4 linked regions of the Homo sapiens genome follow. The protein of the gene in region 2 purifies or fractionates together with the protein of the main gene of each other region. This does not show direct contact. Each region holds a gene or a part of one and is shown on either strand. Other genes may lie near its edges.

The links.
Region 1: the proteins of CCDC7 (region 2) and KAZN fractionate together in Homo sapiens (co-fractionation; one large-scale study listed by BioGRID). This does not show direct contact.
Region 3: the proteins of CCDC7 (region 2) and ITGA2 fractionate together in Homo sapiens (co-fractionation; one large-scale study listed by BioGRID). This does not show direct contact.
Region 4: the proteins of CCDC7 (region 2) and TVP23B fractionate together in Homo sapiens (co-fractionation; one large-scale study listed by BioGRID). This does not show direct contact.

The regions. Positions count from the first base shown.
Region 1 is NC_000001.11:14,605,185-14,608,684, reverse strand, and holds part of KAZN (kazrin), read right to left. Parts: intron 1-3,500. UniProt on the Homo sapiens protein: Component of the cornified envelope of keratinocytes. May be involved in the interplay between adherens junctions and desmosomes. The function in the nucleus is not known.
Region 2 is NC_000010.11:32,844,640-32,848,139, reverse strand, and holds part of CCDC7 (uncharacterized protein C10orf68), read right to left. Parts: intron 2,898-3,500; coding exon 2,814-2,897; intron 2,598-2,813; coding exon 2,514-2,597; intron 2,265-2,513; coding exon 2,181-2,264; intron 1,765-2,180; coding exon 1,681-1,764; intron 308-1,680; coding exon 224-307; intron 1-223. UniProt on the Homo sapiens protein: May play a role in tumorigenesis.
Region 3 is NC_000005.10:53,058,852-53,062,351, reverse strand, and holds part of ITGA2 (integrin alpha-2 precursor), read right to left. Parts: intron 2,479-3,500; coding exon 2,340-2,478; intron 1,452-2,339; coding exon 1,306-1,451; intron 1-1,305. UniProt on the Homo sapiens protein: Integrin alpha-2/beta-1 is a receptor for laminin, collagen, collagen C-propeptides, fibronectin and E-cadherin. It recognizes the proline-hydroxylated sequence G-F-P-G-E-R in collagen.
Region 4 is NC_000017.11:18,798,183-18,801,682, forward strand, and holds part of TVP23B (Golgi apparatus membrane protein TVP23 homolog B), read left to right. Parts: intron 1-629; coding exon 630-761; intron 762-3,200; coding exon of another isoform or gene 3,201-3,203; exon of another isoform or gene 3,204-3,247; intron 3,248-3,500.

The DNA.
Region 1 (3,500 bases), on a different chromosome or scaffold from region 2:
AGAAAAGCTATTATTCAAGATCTAAACCCAGTATCATCCACATCTTCCTTCTCCTTAAGACGCGCTCTTTCTCTGGGGGAGAAGGTCCCAGGTAGTAGCTGTTCTCTGCAGTGTCCAATTCCAATCTATCCAAACAGTTGTACTTTTTAATAATCTATCACAGCCAGTTTTAACCCCTAGTGGTGAAATTAGTGTATTTTCCAGCCTGTTTTTATTACGTATTACCATTGTCATGCACATCTGTGAAGGCTCCTGTATTTGTCACTTCATTGTCTATTTTTCCATTACACCCATCTAGACCTTTATTAGAAAATTATGTTTTCATGTCAGTTATACCTATGAGGCTGTGAGTCCAAGATAACTCAGTCCCCATCTTATTAAATCTGTGGTCTCTGGGCCTATGTGCCCAATCTCTCACAATAGATGGAGACAGAGAGAAGCGAGGAAGAAGAAAGGAAGAAAAAAAGAGGAAGGGAAGGCGTTAAGCAAAATAGCAAAACCGTCCTACTGGCATGTCTTTGGGCTACCTGATAGTGACATCTGGATATTCTCGTCTTAACGAAGCGAGCAGATTTCAGGGTCAGTCAAACGTGTGAACCTGTGTTCTAATCCCCTGTTTTTCTGTTCACTAGTGGACTACTTTCCAGAGCTTGGAAAAGCAACTTAACCCTTCTAAGCTTCAATGTCTTCATCTGTGGAATGGAGAGGATAACAATATCTAACTCTCTGTAATATGAAGGTAAATTGAGGAAATGTTTGTTGAGCTCATCACAGTATCTGGGAAAGCCTCAACGAACACTGGCTATTGCTCTTATTGCCCCCTTGGATGATCTCAAAAGTCACTCTGCCTCCCCAGTTCTGATCCTGGAACATCCCTTTTGCTAAAAATGAGCCATAACCCCACTAAGAAGCTCTGGGGTCCACTGTTCCCTTTCCCATAAAGGTAGGAAAGTCAAGTCCCCTCTGCGATTCTCTTTGGTCACAGCCCAGCAGTGAGGCAGAGAGAAGAGATTCTCACGTTTGAACATGGCTCAGCACTAAGCAGTCCTCTTACCTCTGGCCAGACAGGAGTCCCTGCTGGCTACGGATTCTTCAGAAGTGACAGAGCATATTTTGTCCAGCAGAACTCTGAGGATTGACGATGAATGAGTTAGTGTCTGACATGCAAATCCTAATTATAATTGCCACAATGCCAACATTAGAACAATAACAGTTTCTTGGGCAGTAATGGGAAAAAGGATGCCAAGCTCCAGAGCATCCTGGTGGAGACGCCAGGCAGTCTCTGGAATCACACTGGCTTGTGTTTGTATCCTGGCTCTGCCACTTGCTAGCTCGGTGACCCTGGGCAAGTCATGTGACCTTTGTGTGCCTCAACTTTCTCATCTGTAAAATGACAAACACTGTACTTACCTCATAAGGTGGTTTAAAGGATTCGTTGAGGTATTATAGGTAAAGAATTTGAAACAGTGCTTGTTATATGGTATGTAAGCACTCAATTAAAATCATCTATCATTAAATCAATGATCCTCATGATACCATGTATAAAGTAGACCAAAGTCCACACACCCCATCATTTAGTATTCACCCATCCATCCATCTATTCATTCAGCAAGTATTTACTGAGCTCTTACATTATGTACAAAGCACTGCTCTAGGTGGTGAGGATACAGTAAAATATAGATAAAACTCCCTGACCTCACAGAGCTGTCATTCCAAGACTAACAATTGAAGTCTCCCCTAACACCACTGCATAAAAAGCAGTTCGCAACCAGGGATAATTTTGACCTGAAGGGGACATTTGGCAACTTCTGGAGACATTTTTAGTTGTCACAACTGGAGTGTGAAGGGTTCTACTGTCATCTAGTGGGTAGAGGCCAGGAATGCTGCTAAATATCCTACAACACACAGGACAGCCCCCTGAGAACACAGAATTATCTGCTCCACATGTCAATAGTACTGGGGCTAAGAAACCCTAGCATGAAGGTATCTGTTTGAGGTTAATAAGTCCTCTGTTGGGCATGGTCTTGGGGTGCTAGAGGCTACTGAGGCCACAGAGAGAGAACTCAGGCAAAAGAAAAGACATGGGATGGATGGAGAATAAGGCTGCCACAAGACTCTGGCTTTGCCTGGACTCATCCTTCCCAAGAGAGATGAAACACACGAAGTCCAAGAAATTGGAGGCTCCAAGTCCAGGATCAAAATAGTCCTTTTTATTAGTGATAAGTGGCCCCTGGGCTGCCAGTCTTGCAAACAGAATCCAGTCCCTTCTTTGTCAGTTGATGGCTGAGAGGCTGGTTGATTGCCTAACTCTCAAGCATAAGACTTTACCGTAAGGACCCAGGAACTACCACCAGTCTAGGGAAACAGGAGTTTAATCAGGAGTAGAGACAAGGCTACAGCTCCCTGAACCTCCCTAATGCAACAAGCCAAAGGATGCTTCTGACTTAGGAGGCAGGGCAGAGAAGCATACACAGGTTTAAACAGCAGAGAGACCTAGTGGGTTTGCATTCCTGGCTCAGTCATGTGGCAGTTGAGTGATCCTGGATGTCAAAGTGGAATGAATAAGAACACAGACTCTAGAGCCAGAGCTTGGTCACTTCCTGACCATATGCCCTTTGGCAAGTAAATGTGTCATCTCTGTGCCTTAGTTTTCTCCTATGGAAAATGGGTACGAGCATGGTACCTGCCCAATAAGTCATTATGAAGACTGAATGCATTCCTGAAATGCATTAATCCAGAAAATCACTTAGAACAGTATCTGGCTCAGAGTACACACTATGCTGAAGTCTGCTACTATCATCCCCATTGTAGTCATCACTATCTCACTGCAAACAAGTGATTTAGTTTCTCTGAGACTCAGTTTCCTCTTTTGAAAAACGGGCATTACATAGTTGACCTGGAAGAACATAGGTTTGAATTGTGCAGGTCCACTTATATGTGAATTTTCTTCCACCTCTGGCACCCCTGAGACAGCGAGACCAACCCTTCCTCTTCCTCCTCCTCCTCAACATGAAGATGATGGGGATGAAGGCCTTTATGATGATCCACTTCCACTTAATGAATAGCAAATATATTTTCTCTTCCTTATGATTTTCTTAATATTTTGTTTTCTCTAGCTTACTTGATTTCTCTACTTAATTATAAAATACATAATACATGGGGCATAAAAGTATGTATAAGTCAACTGCTTATGTTATCTGTTAACTGTTTATATTATGCTATGTTTACGTTATCATAAGGCTTCCGGTCAATAGTAGGCTAGTAGGAGTTAAGTGTTGGGGGAGTCAAAAGTTATAGACAGATTTTTTACTGTGCTGGGTGGGGGCCAGCTATAGTTGTCACCTCGCTGGCCTCAGGATTCAATAATGCATGTTAAGCGCTTGCCAGGGAAGTTGATATATTGTAAGTGCATATTATTATTTATTAAAAAGTTTGACCAAAGCAATGAAACCAGTTCTCATTTACTGCTACATTAAACTATTCACCTTGACCAAAGAGAA
Region 2 (3,500 bases):
AATTATAAACCTCATATTTTTTAAAATCATTGTCTAGAGGTTTTAAAACTTTCTAGCTAATTTCCCATTGATAATACGAGAGTTTAACTAATTATATGAGAAAATTCATGAAGACATTTGCCCATGAAATATTAACATATAGGTACTGTTATCATTAAAGATTCATACTTAAACCCCAGAGAAGATAAACTGTAAATATTAGACTTAAAATTATTATTCTTACCATAGTGAGTCCTTAGTTGTGTCTTTATCTCACCAATTGTTTTACTTGAACCAATGGCATTTGTCAAGGGTTCTACATCAGTCTCTATAGACATAAAACACATTTCAAAACACTTTTTAAGGTAACCATTTATGTTACACATGTATTTTAGTTCTTTTTTCTTTTGAAATTTCTTTTTCTTTTCTTTTCCTTTTTTTTTTTAGAGACAGGATCTTGTTCTGTCACTCAGGCTGGAGTGCAGAGGTGTGAACATGGCTGACTGCAGTTTCAACCTCCTGGGCTCAAGTGGTCCCCCGCCTTGGCCTCTCCAAGTAGCTGGGACTACAGGTGTGCACCACCATGCCTGGCTAATTTTTGTATTTTTTGTAGAGATAGGGTTTTGCTGTGTTGTCTTTTGAAATTTCTATATTATTTGCTGATATCTCTGTTACCTTCCTTTTCTTCCTTAAGAATAATTTCCTTTAACTCTAAGAACACACTTATAATAAGTGCTTTGAGGTTTCGTTGGCTAGGTCCAACACCTGGAACTCTCACAAACAGTTATTGTGGCATGCCCTTTTCCTTGGTGTAGGTCACACTTCACTGTTTCTTTGCATGTTAATAATTTTTGCTCAAGTTTTGACAGTTTCCGTAGTATATTGTAGCATCTCCAGGTACTGATTTCCTCCTCCTCTATCTGGGGCTTGTCATTGTTCTCTCCTTATTTATTTGCATAGCGATGTGACTGGGCTATTGTACTAAAGTCTCTTGCCTGTAGTGTGAAGTGCTACTGCTGCTCTCCAAGGGGCAGAGCCTTGAACATGCATCCAGTACCTTGGATAACATTGGTTTTAGAGGGCCGGCTTCGAATGTGTCTCTTTACCTTATTTCTCTGTTAAGCTGTCTGCCTCTTTTTGTATCACACCAGAGATAAAGAAAATTGTATAACTACATAACACCCTTACACCAAGATGAAAGCCAGTAATGTAATCTCTGAATTATGTAACACAAATAAAGTACTGTATTGCAGGTGAGATTTTATAAATTTGCCTGACATTTTTATCAAATAGAAGGAATGGATAACCAGTGAAATAATTATGTGTTATACTCCTCTTGTCATCGCAGTCTTCAGCTAGCCTTTGTGCTTTTGCCTTTCTGCTTTTGCTAATTAAATATCACTTTTCAGAAACAAAAGTAAGTAGAATAGCTTTGGAAATGCCTACATTGAGACTACTCTAAGGTAACTGTAACACTGAATTTTTATGCATTACTTTTCAAATGGATGAGTTTTAAAACCAATAATATGCTAATGTTCCACTGATAGTAAATGCTAGAGCTTAATTAAAGGATATTCATGATGAATTTTACCTATGTAACACTAACATGTAGGCACTATTGTCATTAAATGTCTATACTTAATTTAACTCAGGGAACATAAATAGGTCACAAATATTAGACTCAAAAATTATTTTTCTTACCCTGGTGACTCTTTAATTGTGCACTGATTGGTCCCTTTATTATATCTCTTCCAATAGCATCTTTTAAGAGTTCTTTATCAGTCTCTATAGAATTAAACAGATTTCAAAATACTTTATAAGGTAAACATTACCATACATGTGTATACGTGTGTGTTTAACTAATTATAGAAGGATATTCATGAAGAATTTCACCAATGTAACACTATGATATAGGTACCTATGTAATAATAACATGTAGACACTGTTGTCATTAAAGGTCTATACTTAACTCAGGGAACATAAATAGGTCACAAATATTAGACTCAAAAATTCTTTTTCTTACCCTGGTGACTCTTTAATTGTGCATTGATAGTCCCTTTATTATATGTCTTCCAATAGCATCTTTTGCTATGGAAAGTACTATGATACAGGTACTGTTGTCATTAAAGGTCTATACTTCAATTTAACTCAGGGAATATAAATAAGCCTAAATATTAGACTTGAAAAATTCTTTCTCTTACCTCGGTGACTCTTCAGTTGTGTAGTGATTGGCCCTATTATTATACCTCTTCCAATAGCATCTGCCAAGAATTCCTTATCAGTCTCTATTGAAATAAAACAGATTTCAATATATTTTATAAGGTAAACATTACCATACCTCTGTGTGTATCTGTGTGTGTGTGTATGTGTGTGTGTGTGTGTGTGTGTGTGTAATTATGGAAGGGTATTCATGAAGAATTTTACCTGTGTAATACCAACATATAGGTACTATTGCCATTAAATGTCCACACTTAATTTAACTCCAGGAATATAAATAAACCATAAATATTAGTCTTGAAATTGTTTTCTCTTACCTGGGTGACTTTTTAATTGTGTCGTGGTTGACTCCTTCATTAGACCTCTTCCAGTAGCATAGGCAAAGAAGTTCTTATCAGTCTCTATAGAAATAAAACAGATTTCAGTATATTTTGTAAGATTATCATTACCATACTTGTGTGTGTTTTTGTGTTTAATTATAGGAGGATATTCATGAATAATTTTACTTATGTAACACTATAATATAGGTAGTTTTGTTATTAAAGGTCTATACTTAATTTAACTCAGGGAATATCAATCAGCCATAAATATTAGATGTGAAAAATTCTTTTTCTTACTTTGGTGACCCTTTAGTTGTGCATTGATTGATCCCTTTATTATACCTCTTCCAGTATCATCTGCTAAGTGTTCCTTATCAGTCTCTATATAAATAAAACAGATATCAATATATTTTGAAAGGTAAACATTACCAAATCTGAGTATGTGTATGTGTTTAATTATAGGAGGATATTCATTTAGAATTTCACCTATATAATACTAACATATTGGTACTATTGTCATTAAAGGTTCATACTTAATTTAACTCCGGGAATATGAATAAACCATAAATATTAGTCTTGAAAAAAATTTTTTTTACCTTGGTGACATTTAAATTGTGTTTTAATTGACCCCTTTATTATACCTCTTCCAATAGCATCTGCTAAGAGTTCCTTATTAGTCTCTATAGAAATAAAGCAGATTTCAATATATTTTATAAGGTAAACATTTTATGTGTGTGTGTGCATGTGTAGTGCACATGTGAGTTTTTATTATTATAGTAGAAGAGTCACAACATGTCTTATTGCAGTAAGCATCACAAAACAGAATTTGAAGGGCTATTAGAACTCATATAAGCCTATTATATTGAAGTTCAGAGATGCTTCATGATTTGAACAAGACCACATCAAGATAATGACAAAATTGATGTACAAACTGACACTTTATAATTCCTTAACCACTGACTTTACCATATAATGCATCTCTTA
Region 3 (3,500 bases), on a different chromosome or scaffold from region 2:
AAGCTTCTATAGTAAAATAAATTGTAATAGAGGCAAGTCCCAAAGGCTGAGTGATCAGAGAGCAGGAGAGTCAGGAAGGCTTAGAAAGTTAAAATATCATTCAAATTGCAAAGTAAGAAGGACATGGAGTTTTCTAGGCAGAGGGAAGTGGGAAAGCACATATGATGATGTAAGTGTACATGGCATGATATGAGACAGGTAAGTAGTTGCTGGATAGATTGGGACAGGAGGACAAGGTGGAGATAAATTAAAATAAGAAAAGCTGAGACTTTGAACCTTCATCCCATTCAACAACGTTCAATGCATGCCTATGTGAACACTTTTTGAGGATTTAGAAATGACTAAGAAATGATTCCTTCCATAACACTGTCACTGTTATTTTCTAAATTAAAGAAGAACTTCTTTAAAATATTAAAAAAGAGAGAAAAGTATGTGACCATAGCTAATTTGTGGTCACGGAAGTCAAGAACTCGGGTCTTCTTACTCCTAGAAAATCCATAGGAACAGCAGGATCACACTTAATCTCAGAGAAGAGAAATCTTTGTAAGTTTCTCCAGCTTAAAGAAGGAAACCACTTTTTGTTGGTTGTCAGGGATTAGTGATGCTCATTTTAAATGTGTGTCAAGCCCCTGGGTCAAAACTGTTTAGTAAGGAAACAGGAAGCAATCAGCTGGCCTTTGCTCTAGCAACAGATCTTTGCTGTAGTGGGCCATATCTGGGATTCATCATAGGGTCTAACTACCAAACTGTCACCCATCAGCTGAAAGTGGCAGAGAAGATAATTGTTTTACTTTTAGAATCTTCAAAACCAACAGGACATTCTGACAGGTTCAGATGTAAAAGTTCAGTCCTTATAATGTTGTGCTGCTCCCTTCTTCTCATTATTTCCTCTCCAAATCCTTGTTCCTAGTGTGTGCTTACCTACAAAGCAGTGGTTACATGCCTGCCATCACAACTAAATAATATCCATGCATTATTAATCCAGGGAGTCAAAAACATGAAGGGGATGTAATCATTCAGGACAGCCTCTGAGTCCAGAAAGGACTGAGTTTTAATGACAGCTCAATCCATGGACGCTGTGTGACCTTAGAAAGCTAGCTAAATTCCCAGTAAGTTGTCAAAAGGGAGGGCTGTCTTCTTGGTATTGTTGTGATGATTTAAGGAATACACTAAGTAAACTCAGATTACAGAGCCAATCACAGAGTAGGCACTCAGGCCATGTTGTTTTCCATTTCTGTTCACCTGACTCCCCACCTGCCCAGTTGCCCCTAAAATTAATTTCACCTGCTAAACAGTGAGATTTACCTGGTCACCTCGGTGAGCCTGAATAACCGTGATATTGCCATTCTCATTCACACTATATAGCACTATCTGGCCGGTATAATTTGCCCGAGGAGCACCAGCAACAAAGTGAGTGCTTTCTCCAGTAGAAATTGCAGCCACAGAGTAACCTAAAAGGGAAGGAGCAACAGAGTGATTAACATTGACTATCTGAGCAAAATAAAGTTAAAAGAAGTGAGTAAAGGTGACCAGAGATCCTTTTGTGTTAGATGTGATGCAAAGTTTCTAGTGCTCCTGAATACATCACTGAGGACATGTCTTCCTTTTTCTAAGATGAATTGCTCCTGTCCTTTGACCTGCAGCACTTCCCTTTGCAGGTGGGACTTCTACCTATAAAACTGCCTCTAGATTCCACGCTGTTCTCATCAGCCACCTGTGAACCTGGCATTCAAAAAATATTTCTTGAACGAATGAATAAATGTATTTAAAAGGTAGTGTTGCACAGTAGAAAGAACACAGGTCTTGGAAACAGGCTGAGGTTCAGATTCTGGATTTGCCGCTTACTAGGTTGTTGAACGTTAGACAAGTTGTTAATCTTGCTATCTCTCAAAGGCAAAACATCCCTGAAAGACTTGTTGGAAAGATTTAAATGTTTATGTAGATAGACTAGCAGCTCAGGAACTGTCCCATAGTAAGTCTGCAAAATCAGTGGCTGCTTATTATAAGAACAAGAAGACTAAGAGCTCTAAAATACTATAAGACTATCACTTACTGTATTGACTTTTGGGAACTATTTCCATTTTGGAGGAACACAATCATGTTCCAGGAATTACAACCACTTGACCAGCCAGAAGAAACTAGTGAGTATAATATAGTATTCCAATAAGTAGTTATGCCTTAAGGCCCGATTGGCAAAGAGACAACATATGTATGTGTAATAAATATGATAATTAGATGACAGTTCAAGGATTTTGCTGAACTCACCCTGAGATTCAACAAAGAGCTGGTTTAAAGCAAGGGAACTTAAGTTTGCTGAGCCAATTATTACCATGCCTTACCTAAATATGAACTGTGATTTCTGTCCTGCAGAATTTGGTCAAAGGCTTGTTTAGGAAAGATCAAATGGCCATGAGATGTCTTCTGGACAATGGTCCCACTCCAGCCAAAAGCTCCCACTGCACCCAGCATCAGAATATCCTAAAATAATTGAAAAATGAAGATCATTGAAACAAATCACCTTTAAAACATAAGAATGCAGGGTAGGCAAAACATTGAAATAAGTTGTTTAGATTTATTAAAAATGATGAAATATATATGAACATATATTGACATATTGTAGAATTGTCTTAATATATTTGTGCTAGAGAACAAGCCTTCCCATTGGCTGTGTTATTTTGGACTTTATTTAGTATGATATGTTATACAGACAAACCTTTGTAATAACCTGTAGTACAGGACAGGTACAGAGCCATCTTCAAATTTCCCTTTCAAAGGCATATATTTGCCAATGGTAAACCCTTATGAACTTTACAAAGGAGTCAGAAGTGAGTCTCTCACTCCACATATTTATAAGGAAAGCTCACAGCCGGATATGAGACATGCTTGAGAAACAGAAGTACTGACACGGGAGAGACGGAGATACTTCTGCTATCCCAGACACGGCTCGGGAGGCCCTCTTCTGACCTGTTCTACTTTCAGCTTTCTTCCTCTCTCTTCCTGACCCCTTCTCAAATGTTCCAGTATATTCCTATATTCCATCTATTTGATAATAGCACAGCTACAAGAGGCAACTTTAGCTGTGACATTCAATCTATTGGAAGGAAAATAACCATTTGTCAGCCCTGTGGGGAGGGCAAAGGAAGATGCCTACTCTGGATTGACTTGAAACCCAATCTAAACACTCAATGCTATAAATCATCAAACGAGGCAGATTTGGTGAGGATGAGATACACTATTTTTAATTTTTTGTTCTTCTATCTTAGAGCGTACCAAAGATAAGATGTTGGACTAAAAAATACAAGCCATGAAAAATAGCAAGTAAGGAAAAGATGTGTTCTACTTTGAGGATAAGAGACCATGAAGTTATGTGAATGACTGTAGTAAATTGAGGGACTCTGGATTTGGGGTGCATGAAAGGACTTCAGCGTATGTACAAAAACCTCATGGGATTGTGTGCAAAATTCTCCGTGCATAGATTCATTTACATTTTTTCTGAGGGA
Region 4 (3,500 bases), on a different chromosome or scaffold from region 2:
TATTCACTTTCCTTGTGGAAATAAGTTTTGGAAGCAGAGGACCAAATTCTTGGCGACAGTACACCAAGGGTATTGACAAGTTATTTTAAGAAAGTGGCACTGTGTTCAATGAGCCTGTATTCTTTTATATTATAGAATCTACCTTGGAAACAACTTACCACCCTTGTAACTTCCTGGGTATTGCTAAGACATTTTGATTATTGTCCAGAATCCCTTGATTCCGTTTTTTTTTTTTCCTCTGGACCCTAATTTGACCTTTTAGTCTCCAGAATGATTATAACTGTGATTTCCTTGATCATTGGTAGGAAAGGTATCATTTAGAGCTTCCTTATGAATAAATAGTACAAGTGCAAGAAGAATTGAATAGAATCCTATCAGAGACCACTCTTTACTGTCATGAGTTGTGGTAAACCATCCATCCTGCCCTGAAAATGCAAAATTCTTGAGTTAATATAGATCAGTTCCTAAAATTACAAGAGTGATAGTCATGTATTTTTGGGTTCTAACTTAGGAGTTGGGCTGTGTGTATTAATATTTGAACTTGTGGGTAATATGTTTTTTATTAAACATGTTGAACTTTTTATTGATAAATTTCACAACATGATAATTGAATTTATGTTCTTTTATAGGAGTCCTCTCAAGAGAATAAAACTGTGTCAGAGGCTGAATCAAGAATCTTTTGGTTGGGACTTATTGCCTGTCCAGTACTGTGGGTGATATTTGCTTTTAGTGCACTCTTCTCCTTCAGAGTAAAGTGGTTGGTGAGTATCAGTGTAGAACTTTCAAATAATCCATTAAGATGTCTGATGGTAATCATAGGAAGCAACAACTACAACTGAGTCCTTATCATTAGGGACCTATCTTGAATAGGCAGCTTCATCATGTAATTCCCAAGTTTTGCTTCCCAACTTTACCTTTCTCTATAATACTGGAGAAGAGATCCTAAAAAACCCCTTCCCACCAGTTTTCTAGATTATTAGTGGTCTTTTCTGGAAATAATGGTTGGTAACCTATTGCTGCCTAACAAATCACTCCAAAACATAGTGGCTTAGAGCAACAACAGCCATTATCTCACAGTTTCTATGGGTCAGGATCTTGGGAAGGGCTCTGCTGGGAGATTCTGGCTTGGGGTCTTGAGTAGTTGTAGTCAGACAGTAGTTGGAATGATGGGGGTTGTGAGCCATCTCCTCTTCATGAGGTCCCATGGCCTCTCCACATGTTTTTCCCTGTGCCTTCGTTTGGGCTTCTTCATGGCATGGTGGCCTCATGGTGGTGGGACTGCTTACGTGGCAGCCCAGTACTTCACTTGTGGGGTGTTCTAGCTCGCAAGCTTTTACAATCTAGCTAAGATGTCATAGCATCGCTTCTGCTGCCCACTCACATTCAAGGAAATGGGAATTAGGCTCTGCTCTTGATAAGGAATAAGAAGGTGCTAGAAGACTTTGTGGAAGAGGAGATATTGTTGCTGCTGTCTTTGGAAAATATAGTTTGTCACTTGACCCAATTTGTGAGTCTTACTCTTTTTTATATCTCATATTATTTTTTCTTATTCTATCTTATATCTGATATGAATAAATATTGTGTGAATTTTCACACAATATTTATTGATATCAGATATATTTTGGCCTTAATTATGTTTTTCCTCCTAATTTGTAGTATTTTCTTAGTCCTATTTTGCGATATAGATTCTTTTTTTCTTTGTGTGTGCTCATACATTCATACTTTCCTTCTTTGGATTTGGAAGCTTATTGGAAGCTTATTGTCTTTTTTCAGTTCTTCTGGTAGTTACCTTTAATTACTTTATATGTTTATATCATTACCCTCTTTCATGAATTAGGAAATTTATTCAGTATTTATGGAGTTCCTGCTCTGGAAAATGGGAAACTTTACGCTAATATGGTTTCTTTAACTTCTCCCTCCTCCTACCTCTAGAGTTTTGCTTATTATAGTCTTATTTTAGTCCTTCTAGTGGTTTTCTTTGTAACATTAATTAATGTACTTAAACCTGTTTATTGACTTAATAGACTCTGTTTAGAAAGGGAAGAAAATAAACACTCATATTCCTTCCTATGAGTTTCCTCCTTTCTCTCTTGTTTGTTCCAATGTTATTTTTGTGTTACCAAGTTTTATAATAGTTATCTTTTGAAAACATATTTCTTACTGGTTGTTTAGTCTTTGATCTGTTTTTTAAAAAAGTCGATTCATTGCCTATCACCAGTCTTACTGCAGCTTCTCCTTTTACTTATTGGTTGGCTACATTTTCTTTTGACTCATGTTTAAACATATGAGCCTATTGACTATTCTTAAATGATGACCTGGCTGGATTAATATTCTTGGGTCACAGTTTGTTTCTTTTTGGAAGATGCTATTCCATCATTTTCTTTCACTGAATATCTTGGAGAAGTCTGAGGCCAGGCTTACTTAACCTTTGTAATCTCTCCTCATAAGGTGTTTTTTTTTTTAGTTCATGTAACCCAGATGTATCTGTATTTATCTTTCCATATCAAGTTTTCTGGAGTCTGTGCCTTTCTGACAGGCAGACCAAAGTTTTGCTTGGAATCAGGAAAATTTTTTCTGTTAAATCTTTGCATTTATTTATGTTCTATGGTTTGACCTTTCATTTTGAAGTACCAGTTACGTTTATGTTGGATCATTTTTATTTGTTCTCATCTACTATTTTCTTGTTGCTTTAATTATTCATCTTTTCCTTATTTATTCAGCAATTTTAAGAGTTCACTCTTATGTCAGAGCTGTCTGGAGACACAGGGGGATAAGTTAGGGGACAGTAAACAAGTTGACTGCTCCAGTAGAGCTTATGTTCTAGTGGAAGGTAGACAAACAGTAAAAAATACAACAGGGGATGTTAGTTAATGATACAAAGTAATGGGGTAGAGAGTGCAGAGGAGAGAACAGTAACTATTTTAAGTGCTCAGCTAAGGCTTCTCTCTGTATTTCCTTAGCTTTGTCAGCTCCGTTTTCATCTCCTGTTATCTCACCCTCATGCTTTTTGAGTTCTTTTCTTTAGGTTTTTCTGTAGGGTGAAATAGTCCGAGGAATGCTTTTATTTTGGTGGGGTTTTTTTCTTTTCGAGTAGATTCTTCACCTATCTTCTGTATACTATGCTTCTTTTTTCTTTTTTCACTATAGTTTTGCATAAATGCACTTCCCTTTTTCCTTATCCATTTTGCTTATCCTTACAGTGACAGTCCTGTCCAGCCCTTCTCTTTCTGCTGGTTTAGTGCGGGTGAATCCCCCTTGACCACCTTCTCCTGATGTCTGAGGCACGTGGCTGCTGCTCTGAGCTGGAGTTGCAGTGCTGGGTTTGGTGGCCTGAAGACACAGGTGTGATGTGCGATGTGGAGAACTTGCCAGGCTCTTGCTCTCTTGGCTGGGCTGCCTGGTTTTGCGTTCTCTTCCTTAGTGGGGCTCTTGTCTGCTGGTTGGCTGTGCACTCTCTTCTGGTTCTTCCCTTCTGCTTTGGATTGTTTGTAAGACCTTAG